Linked DNA regions of Homo sapiens. The protein of the gene in region 1 purifies or fractionates together with the protein of each later gene. This does not show direct contact. Each region holds a gene or a part of one and is shown in the gene's direction. Other genes may lie near its edges.

Region 1 (4,283 bases):
ACATTGTGTATGTCATGCCCTATGCTGAACTCTTCATATTCACCATCTTACTTTATACTCATGATAACCGTATAGGTTGACACTATTATTAATTTTAAATTTGATACTGTGGCTTAGAACAGTTAACTTGCTCAAGGTCACATAGCAACCATTCTGGCATTAACAGTAGATCCAATTTCAGACCCAATTTTCTTAACCACTATACTTTACAACTTTCCTTCTATCTTTATTAATAATAATCAGTTCTATGTATTTAGCACTTACCATGTTACATGGTGCAAAATATTTTACATTATTATTTCCCCAAACAGCTCATTTATACCCATTAGTAGGTATGATTTCCTCCATTTCCCATCATTATGTGACCTTGGATAAGATACTTGACCTCTGAAACTGAGTTTTCATCTATAAAATAAGGATGATCCGAATATGCAGGGTTTCTGTGACAGTTCTACAGACTATATGTAAATCATCTAGCACAGTGCCTGTGTGTCCTGGAAACAAAATGCACATGCCCTATCCTGAAATCATTTTTGCATGAATTCAATTTAATTCATTAAATATTATTTAGACAAGTGAATAGTTTGCAAGGCAGTATCTTAGGCAGAAATATCTGCCTGAACGCTGAACAAAATGCCTCAGATCTCTTTCAGCCTGAGCTAACTGGAAGCAACTCTCTTACAAAATGAACACAGGTTAGTTTTCAAAAGGAAGGAAAAGGGTCTCTCTGGTGGGCACAGCCTAGAAAGGCCAGATGTAGTCAGGGCGCCTCCAAAGGATGATTCCAACTGCCCAGATGCATGCAAGTGTACATTTTCCCGATAAAAAATCAGCACACATGGCTTAAGAAGTAGATTGTGATTTTTTAAATTGATGTATAACATACAATAAAGTACTCTAATCTTAAGTGTACACTAGTTGATTGTTTTTACATATGGATACACCTCTGTAACTCCACCCTGATCAAGACATGAAATGTTCCCCCTAACCCAGAGGGGTTTATAATCAGAAAAGAACATCTAAAATCAGAACTGAAAACCGGAAAGCAAGTAAAGAACTTCGAAAGCTGGGCAACTGGGAAGCTGGATTTGGGGAAGGGTATTAGGCAAGAATAAGACAAACCGGACTTGTCTTCATTTTAATGGTGAATGTAGAGTACTTCTACGTGCTCACATTCATTACGCCCGTCGATCCTCACAATGACTCTGCGGTATAGTAGAGACTTAATACCATTTTGCATGTGAGGAAACAGAAACTTGTTCGGGGTTTCCGAGGAAAACACCTCCACCTGAAGCCGGAGAGAGAAAGAACTGGGTCTCCAAACCTTGCTCAGCAAATCCAGCCACGTGGCAGAGGGACAGGGAAGAGCCTGGCGTCAGGTTACCAGGCAGCGCCCCTCTGCTCGGCCCACTGGCAAGCGCTCCCAGCGGCAGGTATAAAAGCTCAGGCTGGCAGTCCTTGAACACTGGTGCTGAACCCCGCCGCGCGCGCTTTGAATTTCCCAGCCGCTAAGCGCCTCTCCTGGTCGGTGTCCCAGGCAGAAAGGTGCAGAGACCCATCTGACGCAGGACTCCAGGTATTTTAGGAGGGACCCATCGGCTTGCTTAATTCCCTGGGGGATTCGTCTGAGGCTCTTTGCCTCTGCAAGGGGAGAACCAGCCACAGTTTCCCGGAAGGAATAACAATTACTTTAATTCTAGCTGAGGACTAGACTGCTATGGTCCAAAGAGTCAGGAAACGATTGCAAGGCAATCGTTGGCACAGAGAACAGAGCGACTGAAGTTACAATCCAGCATTTTGTGAATCTCTGCCTTAGGCCAGCCAGGGCGGAGAGGGATTAAAACAAGCTCCGAAGTGTGTATTACAACACAGTTGAGATAGGACAAAAGAAAAACAGTTGTTTTTCGCTCACTGAAAAAATAGTTTGCAATAGCGGCAAGCAAGAGCAGTTTGCCTTGTTTCGGGAAAGGCAGGAAGAAACACCCCGAAAGTATTAATAGGAGAAAAGGAACAGGATTTACTGCACCTTGCGGGACTCGCTCTGACGATCCTTGTGCCTTTGTGCACTGCAGGTAGACAAGCTCCAGCAGAGAGTGGCCAGATGTGGTGCCTGGAGCGACTCCGCTTGGGTCCTGAGTGCCTTCGGCGGAGCGGAGACTGGCTTCTCCCGGGTCGGGCCCGCGGAGCCAAGTCTCGCACCACCGCCGCGTGCGCAAATGTGCTCACTCCGGACCGCATCCCTGAGTTCTGCATCCCGCCACGGCTCATGCCCCGCCTGGCCTTGGCTGCGCTCCGGAATTCTTGGGTCGAAGAAGCAGGGATGGACGAGGGCGCCGGCCGCACAGACTGGGACCCGCGCTCGCAGGCCGCGCTGTCACTGCCGCACCTGCCCCGTGTGCGCACCGCCTACGGCTTCTGCGCGCTGCTCGAGAGCCCGCACACGCGCCGCAAGGAGTCGCTCCTGCTCGGGGGCCCGCCCGCGCCCCGGCCCCGGGCCCACACCTACGGCGGCGGCGGCGGCCCGGACGCCCTCCTGGGGACCCTGCGCGTCCCGCGAGCTCCGGGCCCGGCGACCCCCGCGGCCCCCGGCTGTCCCCGCCCGCCCCAGGACGCGCTCGCCCGGCGGCCCCGCGGCTGCCGCCTCCTGCGCGTCCCCGACGGGCTGCTGAGTCGCGCGCTGCGGGCTGGGAGGAGTCGCCGCCTGACCCGCGTCCGCTCCGTCTCCAGCGGGAACGAGGACAAGGAGCGCCGCGCGGGCTCCCAGTCCCCGGCCCGGGCCCCCTCCACGAGCCCGCCGTCGTCCCGGGTCCCGTTTCCCGAGCGCCTGGAGGCCGAGGGCACCGTGGCTCTGGGCCGCGCCGGCGACGCCCTGCGCCTGGCCGCCGAGTACTGTCCGGGAACCGGGCGGCTCCGCCTCCGGCTGCTCCGCGCCGAGAGCCCGGCCGGAGGCGCCCCCGGGCCCCGAGCCGTCAGCTGTCGCCTCAGCCTCGTCCTGCGGCCGCCGGGCACCGCGCTTCGGCAATGCAGCACTGTGGTGGGGCGCAGCCGCAAGGCCTCCTTTGACCAGGACTTCTGCTTCGACGGCCTCTCGGAGGACGAAGTGCGCCGCCTGGCCGTTCGAGTCAAGGCCCGGGACGAGGGCCGCGGCCGGGAGCGGGGCCGCCTGCTGGGCCAGGGTGAGCTGTCCCTGGGCGCCCTCCTGCTGCTCTGAGGGCCCAGCCCTCCCCGGGGCGCTCTGCCCGGGGGACTCCGGACACTGACAGCCGCGTGGTACAAAATAAACGTGTATTTGTTGTTCTTATCAGTCCCGTTTCAGTACAACACTGGCAGAGATGATTCTAGATTAACTATCCCAGTAAAAGATATGATATTTTCCATAGATACCTCCAGAATTTTTTTCAGCAAATGGAATGGTTCTACAGTGTTTCCCAATATAGACAGCCATTTGCATACCATATGTACCACACACGCCTAGGAAATAATGAATCACATGAAGTGTTAGAACTAGAAAGTGTCTTGGCGATCTGTTTGCTCCAATCACCTCATTTTAAAATTGGTGCTTTCCACAACATGCATGGAGACCATCTTGGAGCATTTACTTTTGAAGCATTTTGTTTAAGACCCCGGATAAGAAAATGAGGGCAAAAGAGGTGAAGTGACTTGTCCAAGATCAACAGTGAATTATTAGTTGGAACGCCAGCCTGATACTCCTAGCTATATCTCACTGGAAAAGCATTGGAGAAAATGAAACCATTTTAATATTCTAAGCTTAAATAATAGTTATAATAGGCTAGGTGTGGCGGCTCACGCCTGTAATCCTGGCACTTTGGGAGGCCGAGGCGGGCAGATGGCTTGAGCCCAGGAATTTGAGACCAGGCTGGGCAACATGGGAAGACCGCGTCTCCATAAAAAATACAAAATTTAGCCGGACGTGGTGGCACGCACCTGTAGTTCCAGCTACTCTGGGGCTGAGGCGCAAGGATCACTTGAGCCTGGGAGGTCAAGGCTGCAGTGAGCCGAGATCGTGCCACTGCACTCCAACCTGGGCAACCGGAGTGAGACCCTGTCTGCAAATAATAATAATAATAATAAATAGTTTTACAAGCGTTAATTTATGTTTTAACCCCCAAAAGGAGGCACTGCTATGCCCATTTTACAGATGAGGATATTGAGGCACAGAATAAAGAGCAGAGCCAGAATTTGAACCTAGACAATCAGCATTTCACTCATTACTCTTATGTAGGTAATACCACAGTGTCTAAAGGGCTCGCTATTAAAGTTGC
Region 2 (3,810 bases), on another chromosome or scaffold:
CAGCATCAAGACAAAAAGGATTATTCTGCAGATTATTCTCAAGCCGTAAACCATAATGTGCTGTGACCCATAGGTTCAGGACTTGCTGGGGACCTGTTACTCCTTTTCTTTTTTTCTGTTTCCCTTTTTTGGAACTGGAATGTTTATCCTGTGCCCGTCTCACCACTATATATGTGTGTGTGTGTGTGTGTGTGTGTGTGTGTGTCTCTGTGTGTGTGTTTTGTTTTTTTTTTTTTAAGACTGAGTCTCACCCTGTTGCCCAGGGTGGAGTGCAGTGGCATGATCTCAGCTCACTGCAGACTCCGCCTGCCGGGTTCAAATGATTCTCCTGCCTCAGCCTCCCAAGTAGCTGGGATTATAGGTGCTCACCACCACGCCTGGCTGCTTTTTGTATTTTTGGTAGAGATGAGGTTTAACCGTATTGGCCAGGCTGGTCTCAAACTCCTGACCTCAGGTAATCTGCCTGCCTCGGCCTCCCAAGGTGCTGGGATTACAGGTGTGAGCCACTGCGCCGGCCTCACCACTATTTGGAAGGCACATAACTTGTTTCATTTCACAGGTTCACAGCTGGAGAGAATTTTGTGTCAGGTAGAATTGTGCCTTGAGTTTCAACCGTAACTGATTTAGATGATATTTAAATGAGATGTTGGACTCCGGACTTTTGAGTTGATGCTGGAATGAATTAAGACTTTGAGGGTTATTGGGATAGAATGAATTTGTTTGGCATGTGAAAAGGATATGAATTTGGGGGAACCAGGGGCAGAATGCTATGGTTTCAGTGTTTATATCTCCCCAAAATTTGTGTTGAAATTGTAATCCCCAAGATGATGGTATTAGGAAGTGGAGACTTTTGGGGAGATGATCTGGTAACAAGGGCAAAGTCCTCATGAGTGGGATTAGTCCCTCCTAAAAGAGGCCCCAGAGAACTCCCTTGCCCTCTCCATCATGTAAGGACACAGAAGACACCTGTCTTTTGACCAAGAAGTGGGCCCTCACCAGGCACCCAGCCTGCTGGCACCTTGATCTTGGACGTCCAGCCTCCAGAACTGTGAGGAACAGATTTCTGTTGTATAGAAACTGCCCGTCCTACAGCGTTGTGTTGTCACAGCCTCAGTGGACTAAGACTGAGACACCTAGCTCGTCCCGGACTGAGGCATCCCTGTTCTCCTGTGCTTTCAGAGTCGGGTTTCTCCATTCAAGGACATGATTTTATGCTTCTCTGAAGAGGATTGGTCCCTTCTAGATCCTGCCCAGACTGGCTTCTATGGAGAGTTCATCATTGGGGAGGATTACGGGGTCTCAATGCCTCCAAGTAAGACTTAACTTCCCCCCACACCTCAAGACCAGGGAACTGGGCAGGGGAGTTCTCACTTGGAGTAAGAGTCAACTTCGTCCCATAGGATCAGGGAAGCGGGGCCTGCATCAGATCTCTCTGTTCACCCCCAACCTGGACAGGAGGTCATTTGCACACAGCGGCCCTACAGGCAGTGTGTCCGATTGACCATCACCTGCTGTCTCGCCACATCAGGCTTATCAGAACCAAATAGAACATGTGCTGTATGTCCATTTCTCTTCCATCGTTCTTACCGTTTTGTCCCTTTATGTCTGCTTTACACCCGAAAGCCTCAGAGAGACCCCCAAGCCCATAGCTCTCCCTGCGTGTGCTGCCCCCACTGCCCCTGCACTGCCAGCTCTGGCCTTTTCACTTCTCGCCCCTGATGGTGCCATGCCCGCTGGGCATCCCTCCGCCTTCTCTCTTCTGGACCAGCCCTGGTTGCTGCAGGATCAGATTACTAATAAACATGTACCCTGCCTTTTTCTTTGAACAGACGACCTAGCTGCCCAGCCAGATCTCTCCCAGGGAGAGGAGAATGAGCCACGCGTTCCAGAGTTGCAGGATCTCCAGGGCAAAGAAGTGCCCCAGGTCTCCTACTTGGGTGAGTAATGATTCCAGAACTGAGTGGACAGAGTAGGGGGAAGGGTTGCTGGCAGCCGGAGGTGAGCCCACTCTCTGGCTTCTCTCTGCGGCCCCTAATTGCCTTCTTCATTTCCCCAGACTCTATGTGGGTCTTGCATGTCTTGCCTTGTCCCTGACTTTTCATAGAAAGAATGGAGGATCTTAATTTTGCCAGGCATTGGAATTGTACTCCCTTGGCCAAGGACTGGGAAATAATAGGAATGTCTTTCTCCTCTGCCTGTAAGTAACATCTGGTTTGTGCTGACAATGCAGCAGCCCCTCCAGGAGTGAAGTCAGATACTCATGACAAGCCTAGTTGCAGAGGGAGTGTCTCCTAACTGGGCACCGAGCGCAGCCCTTTGAGGTGCCTCACCTGTCTAGTCTTCCCATCTGCCTGGTACAGGGGTGCTGTGAGGACACTGGGGTGTGGGGAGGTGCTGGGGCTCAGCAGCAGCAGTTTCCAGCCCTCCTTCAGGCTGTGTCGCCAGCACTTGCACCCATGATCTCCATGCCATGGTGCTTCGAAGCATCTGCTCCTTCAGGAGGAAATAGCTTTGTACAGAATCATCAGCAGCTCCACACCTTCTTCCCCTTTGGGACCTAGAGCTGGCATGAAGCAGACAAGGTTTTGACACACCATCCCCACCTGGAACAAGCGTTCAGAGACTTGGTGTGGTGCAGTAGCTCCTGTACCATCTCTACCCTGTAGGCTCTGCACAAGCTGTTTGTGCAGGATGTGCGGAGTGTGCAGGAGCCTGTGGTGATGACTATAGAAAACCCACCACAGAAAGTGGGAATAAATATGGGGCTGGGGGAAGTGCTTGTCTCTGGCCATAGAGTGGGTGGAGTAGAACCCGGATCTACGTCGATTCTGTCTAGCGTCAGAGCTCATGTTTGTGGAGTTGGCCCATTTTGCCTTCAGGTTCATTCACTCAGCAGACACTTATTGAGTGGCCACCCCCTGCCAGTCCCCAGGACGGAGCCCAGGGCCGCCCCCAGATCGTAGCCTGGCATCTATTCGGATAGCACCCTCCCAGGTAGTGCTGTAGGTGCAAAACAAATCAATTTTTCCATTTCCTCCTCTGGAAAGACTCTCCAAGTCTCCAGCCATTCCAGGTAGAAGAAAGAAGGAAACGTGAGGAGCTGCAGGTGCCAGAGTTCCAGGCCTGCCCACAGACGGTGGTGCCTCAAAACACCTACCCAGGTAAAGAAGGGTCAGGGAGGTATGGGTTTGTCCCTGTGTGTCTGTGGTGTGTCGCATGAATGTATGTATGCATGTGTGGCATAGGGGATGGTTGTGTTGAATGCATGTGTGCGTGCATACACATGTGGTATATGTGGTGTGCTGCATGTGTGAGTGTGTGCATTCATGGGTGCACCTGTGTGTTGGGGGCATGTGGGTGTGTGATGTAAATGTGCGGTGGTGATGGCATGGGACAGTTAGGAACTGAACCCCTCAGGATCCCCGCCGACCTCTGCTGTGGTGTTCTTAGCTGCTTGCCCTGATTCCGTTGTGCTGGGGTCATTCTCCAGCTCACTCCCAATCCCAGGCTCACCCTCCTTGCCTTTCCCAGGGGCCGGGGAGGGTGTGTCAAAGCAGGGTGCTGCTGTAGTGCTGTTGGTGATGCAGTGAGTGTTTTTCTTCTCTCAGCATGGATGGCCAGCATCCTGGCACAGAATCTTGGAACTGGGATTAAAGAGCAGGTTTCTGGCATACTGAAGCTGCACAGGACTCTTGGAAAGTGTATGTTCCATTCCTGCTTTCAGAGAAATAGCCACAGTGTAGACTCTGAGTCGTCTTGGTAAAAGTCACCACTTCCAGAAGCAGAGGCTACAATACTGCCATCTTTCTC

Evidence for each region.
Region 2: the proteins of C2CD4A (region 1) and ZNF496 purify together in Homo sapiens (affinity purification with mass spectrometry; one large-scale study listed by BioGRID and IntAct). This does not show direct contact.

The regions. Positions count from the first base shown.
Region 1 is NC_000015.10:62,065,513-62,069,795, forward strand, and holds the start of C2CD4A (C2 calcium-dependent domain-containing protein 4A), read left to right. Parts: upstream 1-1,464; 5' UTR 1,465-1,576; intron 1,577-2,072; 5' UTR 2,073-2,101; coding exon 2,102-3,211; 3' UTR 3,212-4,283. UniProt on the Homo sapiens protein: May be involved in inflammatory process. May regulate cell architecture and adhesion.
Region 2 is NC_000001.11:247,307,826-247,311,635, reverse strand, and holds part of ZNF496 (zinc finger protein 496), read left to right. Parts: intron 1-1,179; coding exon 1,180-1,312; intron 1,313-1,829; coding exon 1,830-1,937; intron 1,938-3,047; coding exon 3,048-3,161; intron 3,162-3,608; coding exon of another isoform or gene 3,609-3,763; exon of another isoform or gene 3,764-3,810. UniProt on the Homo sapiens protein: DNA-binding transcription factor that can both act as an activator and a repressor.